Regions from separate parts of the Homo sapiens genome. Here region 2 is linked to region 1. Evidence: fine-mapped expression QTL. A gene starts in region 1. The other region holds a variant in brackets. All regions are shown on one strand. Distances are between the middles of the regions. Region 1 holds the start of PLEKHF2 (pleckstrin homology and FYVE domain containing 2). Region 2 overlaps LOC124901982 (a long non-coding RNA gene).

Evidence for each region. PIP is the estimated chance that this variant, and not a neighbour inherited with it, causes the effect. A credible set is the group of variants that fine-mapping cannot tell apart.
Region 2: its variant is the best candidate, but not a certain one, in a credible set for the expression of PLEKHF2 in monocytes after Pam3CSK4 (Quach 2016, PIP 0.76).

What each region holds. Positions count from the first base shown.
Region 1 is chr8:95,131,415-95,136,792 of GRCh38, forward strand. It overlaps PLEKHF2 (pleckstrin homology and FYVE domain containing 2), which reads left to right and starts at 2,371. Exons shown (of 2, transcript NM_024613.4): 1 at 2,371-2,616. RefSeq lists silencers at 2,113-2,752, 2,773-2,932.
Region 2 is chr8:95,177,743-95,183,120 of GRCh38, forward strand. LOC124901982 (a long non-coding RNA gene) reads left to right here. Exons shown (of 2, transcript XR_007061015.1): 2 at 4,270-5,378. Among named protein-coding and RNA genes, the nearest start is that of LINC01298, 36 kb to the right of the region's middle. RefSeq lists an enhancer at 3,591-3,690. The variant GTGAGT/G (reference allele first, on the strand shown) is at 2,995.

The DNA.
Region 1 (5,378 bases):
CATTTTACGGTTGAGATGTGAGGCTCAAAGAGCTGTCTTATCACTTGACTTGAACAGGGTACCACAATTACAGGTTCGGGTAGGAGTGAATCTTACTTCCTTTCAGTGACTTTTGAGTTCCCTGCTTTGTTCCAGATTGGTCAGTGCTATCCAATAGAACTTCTGCAATGATGGAAATGTTTTATATGTGCACTGTCCAATAGTCATGTGGCTATTAAGCACTTGAAATGTGGTCAGTGTGACTGAGAAACTAAATTTTTAATTTAAATAAATTTACATTTAATTAAGACATGTGGTTAGTGGCTACTGTATTTGTTAGCACAGATCTAAATCAACGGTCTCCAAACTGGGGTGCACGCAGCCCAGGGAGGGCATAGACTATGAAGAGTACAGAAAGAAAACATACATATATATATTTAAAATCATTATTTCTGATTTTTTTGTGTGTGTATGTTGTTTTTTAATGTACCTAACATACTAGGTATATTATAATAGGTGTATGTGTGTATATAAATACACACTATATATATCATACATATAATTCTGTGTGTATGTGTGACTGGGTCTTGCTATGCTGCCCAGGCTGGATTCAAACTCCTGGCCTCAAGTGATCCTCCAGCCTCAGCCTCCTGAGTAGCTGGGTATATTACATATGTAACAACTTTTATTTCACACTTACGTAGCACTATATAAATGTGTATATTATGTATGTAATAATTTTATTTCACACTTGTAAAGCACTGTGTGCCAGGTATATGCTTTACATATATTAATTCATTTCATCTGCATAATGACTCTGTGATATACTTTTATTATCTCCATTTTACAAGTGAAAAAACCAAAGTTATCTTTGGATGTGCCAAGGTTGTTAGAGACAAAGCCAATGTTTGATTACAGTCATTCTGGCTTCTATCTATGCACTTTACTTAAGCTAAATAAGTACATGGGAAGTGAGGAGGGCAAACATTTTTACTAATGTGAGTGACCAAAAATATTTGATAACTAATGCTCTAGGCTTGACCTTAGACAACCAGTCAGACATAGCAATTCCTACTTTCAAAATTTAAAAGGATTTTAGGCATTATTTAGTCCTGCCTTTTCCCCACTGATAGATATTGCTGTGCACGTAGAGGTGAATGAGGTAGAGTGATGGTACGGACAAGCGTCCTGGTGACATCTGTACTCATCTAGAGACAACTCTAACACACGAAAGATTGTGTGTGTGTGATCATACAATTTTCCCCATTTAAAAAAAGTTCATCTTTGCCAATTTTGTTCTAATTATTAATTTAAAAAAAGACTTGTTTGTTTCAGAGACAAACTCTATTGAAATAGGGGAGGATAGGAGGCAACAAGCCTGGAGGAGGAAGATCCCAGGTGGAAGAGCAGGGCGGAACCCAAGTCTGCTCTCATCCCTAGGTGCTCATCCACGTGCAGCTTGGCTGGTAGTGACTCTAATTCAACAGCAATCAAACACAGGTTAAAACAACTTACTGAAGTAATAGATGAATAAGAAATATAAAATTTACCAAAACCCAATTTCCTCCTACACACCACACACACTTTGTTTAAAATAAGTATGCTGTTCTCCCTACTTCGCCCCCATCCCTAGTCTACCCTAAGCAACTTCGTTACCTCTCTACGAACCCATCAGAGCGCTTAGCTATCAGATCAATTAGGGCACATTTAACCTTATATACTATGCAATAATTACAGTTTCTAGGTATGTGAAGTAGGCTGATGGGGTTTTGTGTCGTCAAAGTTTTGGGAAGACCAGAATTCTAAAGTATGCATTTAAAAGAAAGGGCTGGGTGGAGCACGTAGGGTATGTGTGTGTCGCCGCAGTTCCCTTGGTTTCAAGAGGAGGGATTTTAGGTAAAGCAAAGGGAAAGTGTGACGGAAAGGATTGCTGTGCTAAATGGGAGCAGCAAATGCCAGTACCGATGCCTTTGGGCATTTAGATCCAAAGCCTGCCTTTCTCGTTCTTCAGTTCCCCGGGGAGGCCTGTTGTGGGTGGGGAGGTGTCTTCCTTCTATTATTCCAGTCTCCCTAAGAACTTCGTAGACAGTTGAGCAATACTTTCTAAGGGCTGGTCGGAGTCAGGAAAGTCAGGTAAGGCGCCTCACGTGCACCTCAACGCGTCGCGGGAGCGCGTCCCGACCTCACACATGGACAAGCTCCGCCCGCGGCCGGCCTGAGTGGGTGTGGCCTCCGCCAAAGGCCCCGCCCCTAGAGCGCGTCGCGAGGGGCGCGAGGGGCGGGGCGAGGGAACTGGCAAGAAAGGGCGGGGAGCGAGGGGTGTGGGTGTGCTCGTGCCCGCGCGCTCGCGCCCGGAGTGTGGACGGGGGCGCGCCCGTGCGCGCGCAGGGGAGAGGCCAGCCCAGGCAGCCGTTGTCGGGTTCGACTGGAGGGGCGGGGGAGTCACCTGCGAGCGGCTGCGCTGGCGGCCAGCCCGCCCACCGCGTCTGGATCGCGCCGGCTGCGCGGGGCTGCGGACAGCACACACCCTGGAAGGCCCCGGCGGGGAACGGGCAGAGTCCGCGCCCTGCGTCCGCGACCAGGAGGATCGGACCTTCGCCTTCGCTGTCGCCGCCGCCGCCGCCCGCGGCCGTCGGGGTAGGTGAAGCCCGGGTGGGTGGTCCGCCGGCTCCTGACGGGCCGGGAGGGGAGACGCGAAACTTTCCGGGCGCTTCCTCCCGCGGTCCCGGAGCCGTCGCAGCGCCGGGAGGTGTCGTCGTCGCGGGCGGTGGCGGCCGACGCCATGTTGGGGTCTGTGAGAAACGGGGCGCTCCCGGCCGCTCCCCTCGCGCCGGGGCCGGCCCGCGGGCCAGTTGCCGCCGCCGTCCCGCCAGCCCGGGAGCGAGCCGCGCCCGCCCGTAGGACGCCGCCGCCGCCGCGGGGGGACGGGGGCCGCCGGGTAGGGTCCGGTCCACGGGTCTGCGGGGCGGGGGCCGGCGGACGCGGGAAGGAGCCCCGAGGCCGGGCGAGAAGTTGTGGGGCCTGAGGACGGGGGTCCTGGACACGGCCGGGGGCGTCTCAGGGTCGCGACAAATTTCTGGCCGAAAAGTTTGCAGGGTCTGCGTGTCGGGGACCTTATGACCTGAACTACATATTTGTATGTCACTTGGGAGACGAAAATGGCCCCGCAGAACTTGCTCTGATAGAAGCGATGGTTTATTTATTTGGAGCCTTTTCAAGTTTTATGATCCTTTGACGAATTTATTTTTCTTTTTAAAAATGTGATTGAAGGCCGAGAGCGCGCTGCCGGTGTTGCTTGAATAGCCTTGTGTGCTCTCCGTACATTCCAGCAATAACTTGAGTGTGCGGTGGAAGTGGGTATGAAGGTTACAGACACCTAAGCCCTCCTCGGTAATTCATAGACTCACAAAACGCGTTGTTGATAAATGCCTTCTTTGTCGTGTTGTGTAGTACGTTGCTGAAGAGACTCATTAAAGAAAGATTTAGACAGAAACTTTGAGAGTCTTAAAGGCATGTGTTCTCTTAAGAATAAGAAGTGATCTTGACAGTTTGAAGTTTTTTTCCCCTCCCTTTAGTTTCTTAAGGGTGAATGCCTACCGCGTTTTGAGCATTTACTTTTTTTAAATACTCTGGCAGCTCGTGGGGTCTTCACGTTAATTCAGTATTAACGAAGGCTTCATTATAATCTCTTTGGGTCCCGACCACACGGGGAATGAATGGTATTAAGCTATTTATTTGGAAAGCACACGTAATCGGCCTCTAAATAAAACTAGTATAGTGACTAAGCTTCAGAAGAAAATATTCAGCCTCAGTAAATGAATCTAAATGATTTTTAAATAAAGACATCTTGCTTTAAAATTCTGTTAAATGAACTGAAAAGGCTCTTAAACACAAATACAGTAAGCCCTAAAACCCCAAATTCTTGGAGAATTTTACTTTTTAGATCTAAAAATACAGCTTCTGCTCATATTTGATTGTCAATTTCTTTTTCCTTTTTTCTCTTTTTCCTTCCTTCCTTTTCCTTTTCCTAGACAGGGTCTCTGTCTGTCGCCCAGGCTGGAGTGCAGTGGTGTCATCTCCGCTCACTGCAGCCTCAAACTCCCGGGGCCCAGGTGATCCACCTCGGCCTCCTGAGTAGTTAGGACTACAGGAGCGCATCACCACACCTGGCTAATTTTTGTTTGAATTTTGTGGAGAGAAGGTTTTGCCATGTTGCTCAGGCTGTATTGCCAATTTCTGTTGTTCTTAAAAATTCTTTTAGTTTTGCTTCATTGTCAAGTAAATGGCATTATAACATTTTTTATTTAGAAATGAAATTAACTAATTTCACAAATGTAGCAGCCAAACTGGTATTTAACTGAGATCTTATGACTCTGAAGCCTTTTCATTTTTCCTGTAGCATAACTTTGTAGGATACATAACTCAGTCTTCTGGAGCAATCTGTCCATCTCGTTTGCTCTTATCACTGCTCTGACTTGAATTTAGTTCTTCAGTATAAATACTTATTTCCCAGCGAGCTGATTTACAGGTGATCCTTGTGATGAAATTTTTTCCTTAAAAATACTTAAGCCTATACTCTTTGAAGCCTTTTCTGCTCTGTTCTCTCATTCCACTCCCTTGCCCTCTCCAGAAATCAATTAATTTCTCCCATGGTATTACTGTAAATATCGCATAGATTCTGTCATGACATCTCCTTGACAGCAGGCAACACATCGGGTCTGATTTGCCTCTTCATTCCCTGCATGCCAAGAACATAGCAGATGCTCAGGAAAGGTTTGAATGGATGAGTACACGTATGTTTGTTCCTTGTAAATATGCTTCATGAATTTCTTTTGAAATTGTAAATTCCATGAGCATCATAGTTAAATCTTCTTTGTAGTCTTTTTCCCAATACATGCCATCAACTCCATTAAATCCACAGATTGGTTTTTATTATATATACACACACACACACACACACACACACACACACACACACACATGTTTTGTTGTTGTTTTGTTGAGAATTTAACTTAGTACCTGAGTGAATTTTCGCCTGGGGGTACAGAACTTGAATATTTATGAAATTTCTAAGTAGATAATGGATTAAAGTATAATTACTGATGTATGAGAGAGAAGCCATGGATCATCAAAAGGATTATAATCATAATTTTAAGTGTGATTGAATGTATTTGAACTTGATGGAAATATTGTTAATGCTTGAAAAATTTAAAGGTCATATTTATACATTTAAGCTCTTGGAACAAATCTCATTATAGCTCTATCAATTATTGTTTTGCCGGAATTGTCTTAGAATTTTTAGAATGCCCTGCTTAATAGAAAGTATATGAAAAATTTTTTTGTTGTTGTTTATCTTTGATGAACCAGCTTTGTACATGAGCTGCCTGCTTAATATTTAA
Region 2 (5,378 bases), 46 kb after region 1:
TCATGACACCCCAGGAACACAAAAATCTAGTGGACCCACAATCTGTGGGAGTTTAGTGAGACTCAAAGCAGGTACAAGGTGTTAAATTAAATTTGACCTAAAGCTGTATCTGTACATAGCAAACTCCAGTGTAACTTAGTAAGTAAACAAATTGTAACCTAACTTAAGGAGTGTATTCTTATAACAAATAACTAAGTCTTAGCCAATCACAGCAGCTAAACTTCAGCCAATCACAGGCTGCCGGCTGATCAGACCATGTCCATATAACGCGATGCAGAGCTGTAAGCAATCGATCTACTGTTTCTGTACATCACTTTCTTTCTCTGTCTGTAGATACTGCCTGCCTGCACTGCTGGGTGGAGCTCTCTGAACCCCTCCTGGTTCAGACTGCTGCTCAATTCATGAATTGTTCTTTGCTTAAATAAACACTGCCAAATTTAATTTGTCTCCTTTTTTTTGTTTTAACAAAAGTAAGGGTGTTATGCCTATGCCTGAGTCAGCAGGGGCTGTCACAGGCTAAGAGCCCGTGCTTTTTGTCTGAATCAGAATTTGCTTTGAACATAGAAATAAAGCCAGAAACACAAATGATCAAGGAATCCTATCATCTGCTCTTACTCCTGTTCCTTTTCTGTATTAGCCAACCACTAACACTGAAAATGACATAGGAGAGGGAAAGATACTGCAACCAATAGTACCTTTTCCTTTACCCCTTCCTTCCTTGTCAGTAAGCTGAAAGTAGAATGTTAGTTCTCTGATTTGTATTAGGAAGTGAGCTGAAATTAGTTGAGTTAGTTTGGTGCAGCAGTTCCACTGTTCTGTTAAGAATGAACTGGCCAGGCACGGTGGCTCACGCCTGTAATCCCAGCACTTTGGGAGGCCAAGGCGGGCAGATCACGAGGTCAGGAGATAGAGACCATCCTGGCTAACATGGTGAAACCCCGTCTCTACTAAAAATACAAAAAAACTAGCTGGGCGTGATGGTGGGCGCTTGTAGTCCCAGCTACTCAGGAGGCTGAGGCAGGAGAATGGCGTGAACCTGGGAGGTGGAGCTTGCAGTGAGCCGAGATTGCGCCACTGCACTCCAGCCTAGGTGACAGAGCAGGACTTTGTCTAAAAAAAAAAAAAAAAAAAAAAATGAACTACAGGCTGGGTTCAGTGGTTCACACCTACAATATCAGCACTTTGGGAGGCTGAAGTGGGAGGATCGCTTGAAGCCAGGAGTTCGAGACCAGCCTGGGGAACGAAGCAAGACCCTGATTGTACAAAACAAAACAAAACAAAACAAAACTGGCTCAGTGCAGTGGTGGGTGCCTGTAGTTCCAGCTGCTTAGTAGGCTGAGGCAGGAGGATCGTTTGAGCCCAGGAGTCTGAGACTGCAGTGAGACAAAATTGTGCCACTGCACTCCAGTCTGAGCAACAGAGTGAGACCTTGTCTCTTAAAAAGAATTAACTACATGTGCATGTACCAACTCTGAAATAGGAAGTGTGTAAGATGCTCTTATCTTTGCATTTAAACCTGGCATTGCACAATATAAAAATGAACAGAACAGTTCATTCTAATCATTTAAAAATTTACCTTTACTGAGAACAACAATAAATAGCAATTTTTTGATCATATTATTTGTTAAAAAATATTTGAGACAGGATCCTGCTATGTTGCCCAGGCTGGTCTTGAACTCCTGGGCTGAAGCGATCCTCCTGCCTTGGCCTCCCAAAGTGTTGGGATTACAGGCATTAGCCACCATGCTCAGCCTAAATAGCAAATAAAATCACTATGATAAATCAAGAGAGAGACTTTTGGAGAAAGAAAAAAGCTTTATATTTTAGTAACTTTAACTGCATTTTCCCCCTGCTTTTTGAACAAGGTTCCCCACCATTGGGCCCCACAAATTATGTAGCTTGTTCTGGATCTCATAGCTATGGCTGAATAATTCAATCCAGCCTGTCAAATTCTGGGGCCATGTTTCAAAAATAATTTCTTAAGTATAAGAAGCCTCAACTTACTAACAGATTGTGTTCCAGCTTGTTTTATAAGTCAGCAGCTTGGATTTTGGCACGTGTTTTCTCATAGGAACACTGTTTTGAATAGTGGTCAGGTTTCCAAGCTAGCCCACAAAAGCATACTGAAGCTATAACACAGCTGATTGTCTACAGTCTATTTGCTGTTATAATAATGTAGCTGAAGACCATTTGTGTGGTTTGCCAAATACTGCACTGTGGGGTTGCACTTAACAGTTGGGTGGGGTCAGGGGAATTCTGGTTGGTTCTGGCCAAAGAGCTGTGAATAGTGGCAGGTGCCACTCTGGGCCAGGGCCAGAGCATTTAGTGGGTGTTGTGAGACCCTCCAGGGTGCTCTGTTCTCCTGCCACAGTCACTGGTAATCTTCTGGGAATGACACAGAGCAGAATCCTGGTGGACTGTGATAGGCATGTTGCATGAGCAGGAAATCCGCCATTGTGTTTTAAGCCACTGAAATTTGGAGTTGTTACCAGTGCAAAAGATACACAGTCCAATTTTAGAAATAGTCCAATGTGAAAAGCTATAATGTCTTTGGATGAAACTGATAAAGGAATGGGAAGTATCTACCCTCTCCTCAGATGTTTAGACAGAAGGGATGCAGAGAGATGGGACAGTAGCTAGAGAGGGACAAAGGTCAAAGAGGAGTTTATTTGCTGATGCCTTTCTTATATTTTTAAGATAGGAGATGCGTAAGTGTGTTTATATGAGAGTCAAGAGAGACAGAGCTAGAGAAAGAGAGGTTAGGTACAATCAGTCTACATCTGCAGGAACCGAAGACTTAAGGGGGTTAACTAACTTGTGCAAATTCTTATGTCCTCACTTTACAGATGAAGGAACCAAGGCCTTAACAAGGTCAAGTCACTCATGCAAGTTTACATGGTTTATAACTGGTTGAACCATGTCTTAAACCCATATTGGTCTGACCCCGAAGCCCACATTCCTGACTGCTAGGCTGCCTCACCTCCTAGTTTTTGG[GTGAGT/G]TGAGTTAACACAGGAGCAGAGAGCTCGCGGCCCCACAGTTAGCCTGAGAGTCAGGGGCCTTGCTATTCCTGGTGAAAGTTCTGTCTACACAAGGCGCTGCTTCCTCATTAAAATTTATGCTGCCAATTCTAAGAATTTTATATAGAGTTTTCAGCCTTTTTCCTGTGAAAATTTTCCCTTAGGAAATCAGATGATATCGAACATCCTTCCACCATTGAAACTGGGTCATTCTAAGGAAATGTAGAATCTCAGGAAAGATTCTAAGGAAATAGAAACTCAGAATTTTAACACTAATGATATCCCTGCCATGTAATAAAAGAAAAACAAAGAGAGCAAGACTCGGTGACTTGCTTGGGGTTCAAGAGTGTATTTAAGAACATTTCCAAGAGGTCAAACAAGCAAGAGGGAAACGCCAGCGATGCTGGGAGGTACCCAAGTGTAGCCGCTGGGATAACATGGGTTATGGTTGCGGCCAGGAGGCCTCTGGAGTGTGACACCAAAATAAGGCTGCAGCCGGGAAGTTGTATCCTGGCTTCTCCCCCAAAGGATGGTGGTTTGCATCCCATTCCCGCCAACTGGCTGATGGCAGGTGATAGCCGAGTCACATGGAGGGGGCCCAGCCGTCCGGGGGTTACCACTTCCTCCTCGCCCACAACAAAGGCCCTCTGCCAAGTGGATGTGTCTATAAATGCCTCCACCTTCAGCTTTCGGGGAACCGTGGACTATGCCTTCTGAAATGACTCTTCAAAGCTGGAGGGAGCATTTCTTCCTCAGCACTCTGGCAGACAATGGGGAGGATAGGACAGTGACACTCACATGAAAGCACGAAGTTGGGATGAAGGAGATGAAGCAATTCAACAGTGGCAGATCTCGTGATAGTGGCAGCTTGGAAATAAAACAAGCCCCCGGTCACATGGTGTCTCGTACCGCCAGCTTCATGGTGTGACTGCTTTGCAAAGGGAAGTTGGCTCGGGCCACTGACAAAGAACATCTAACCCCAGCAAGGCATTGCAATGGGAGCCAGAGATGCAGCTTGATGGCTTGTTTGTGGCTTGGGGATCTACAGTGGCAGTATTTTGATGTGTCCTGTTTTCTGTCCAGGCAGGGAACAGGGAATAAGTGTGTTTTAATAAAGCTTGGCCTCTGTATACCTGTGACCTTGGCCTGGCTTGGCTTATCTGCTTATCCCATGTGCACCTCACTGAGTTATTTGTTTAGACAGCATCTTGAATGACTGTTTTGTTTTGTTTTGTTTTGTTTTTTTGACAGGGTCTTACTTTGTCATCCAGGCTGGAGTGCAGTGGCATGATCTCACCTCACCTCACTGCAGCCGTGACCTACCAGACTCAAGTGATCCTCCTGCCTCTGCCTACCAAGTAGCTGGGACTACAGGCACACACCACTGTGCCTGGTGAATTTTTGTCTTTTTTCAGAGATGTGGTTTTGCCATGTTGCCCAGGCTGGTCTCAAACTCCTGAAGTCAAGCAATCCACCTGCCTCAGCCTCCCAAATTGCTGAGATTACAGGTGTGAGCCACCTCGCCTGGCCTGAATGACTACATTTTAACTTAAATTTAGAATCTTAATTATTACCTAATATCTTCAAAAAGGTCACACAATGATGTAGCATTGAAATTTCAGAAGATGGCTTGCACACACCAGGCAGTGGAACTGATGGCAGTAAAGATGGCCAAATCTCTCAGGACAGATCCCGGAATTTCCAAAATTCAGAAAGTTAGAGTAATGGACAGTTTGTCAAAAACTTCCTGTTGACTTTCAGGAGAAGTCATGTAATTTCCGTAATGTGAAATCCCACTAAAGAAAGAAGAAACTTCAAGGGGAACTAGAAAATGCAGGCAAACTTAGGATTCTTGTGCAGGCCTTGAACTCATATTTTGAAGTATTTTAGAGGTCAAGGGCACAAGTCCTGGTTATGGAAAGCAGTGTGCCACCGAGGATGTTTTGCAAAGCTACTGATGATCCAGTATTATTCCCAAGGATCTCCAGATGCAGAATACAAAGCAGGCTAAGACTTAAATGTTGATTATGATACTAAAGAAGAAAGTGATGTATTAGTGTTTTGATAAATGTATGCTATTGACAGTTGAGTACAGAGGATTTTTAGAGCCATAAAACTACTCTGTATGATACAATAACGGTGGATGATACATGTCGTTATAAATTTGCCCAAACCCGTAGAAAGTACACCAACAAGAATGAACCCTAATGTAAACTAGGTAATTATGATGTGTCAATGTAGGTTCATCAATTGTAACAACTGTAACACTCTGGGGCAGAGCGGGGAGTGTTAATAATGGGAAGGCTGTGTGTGTTTGGGGCAGGGAATAGATGGGAAATCTCTGTATCTTCCTCTTAATT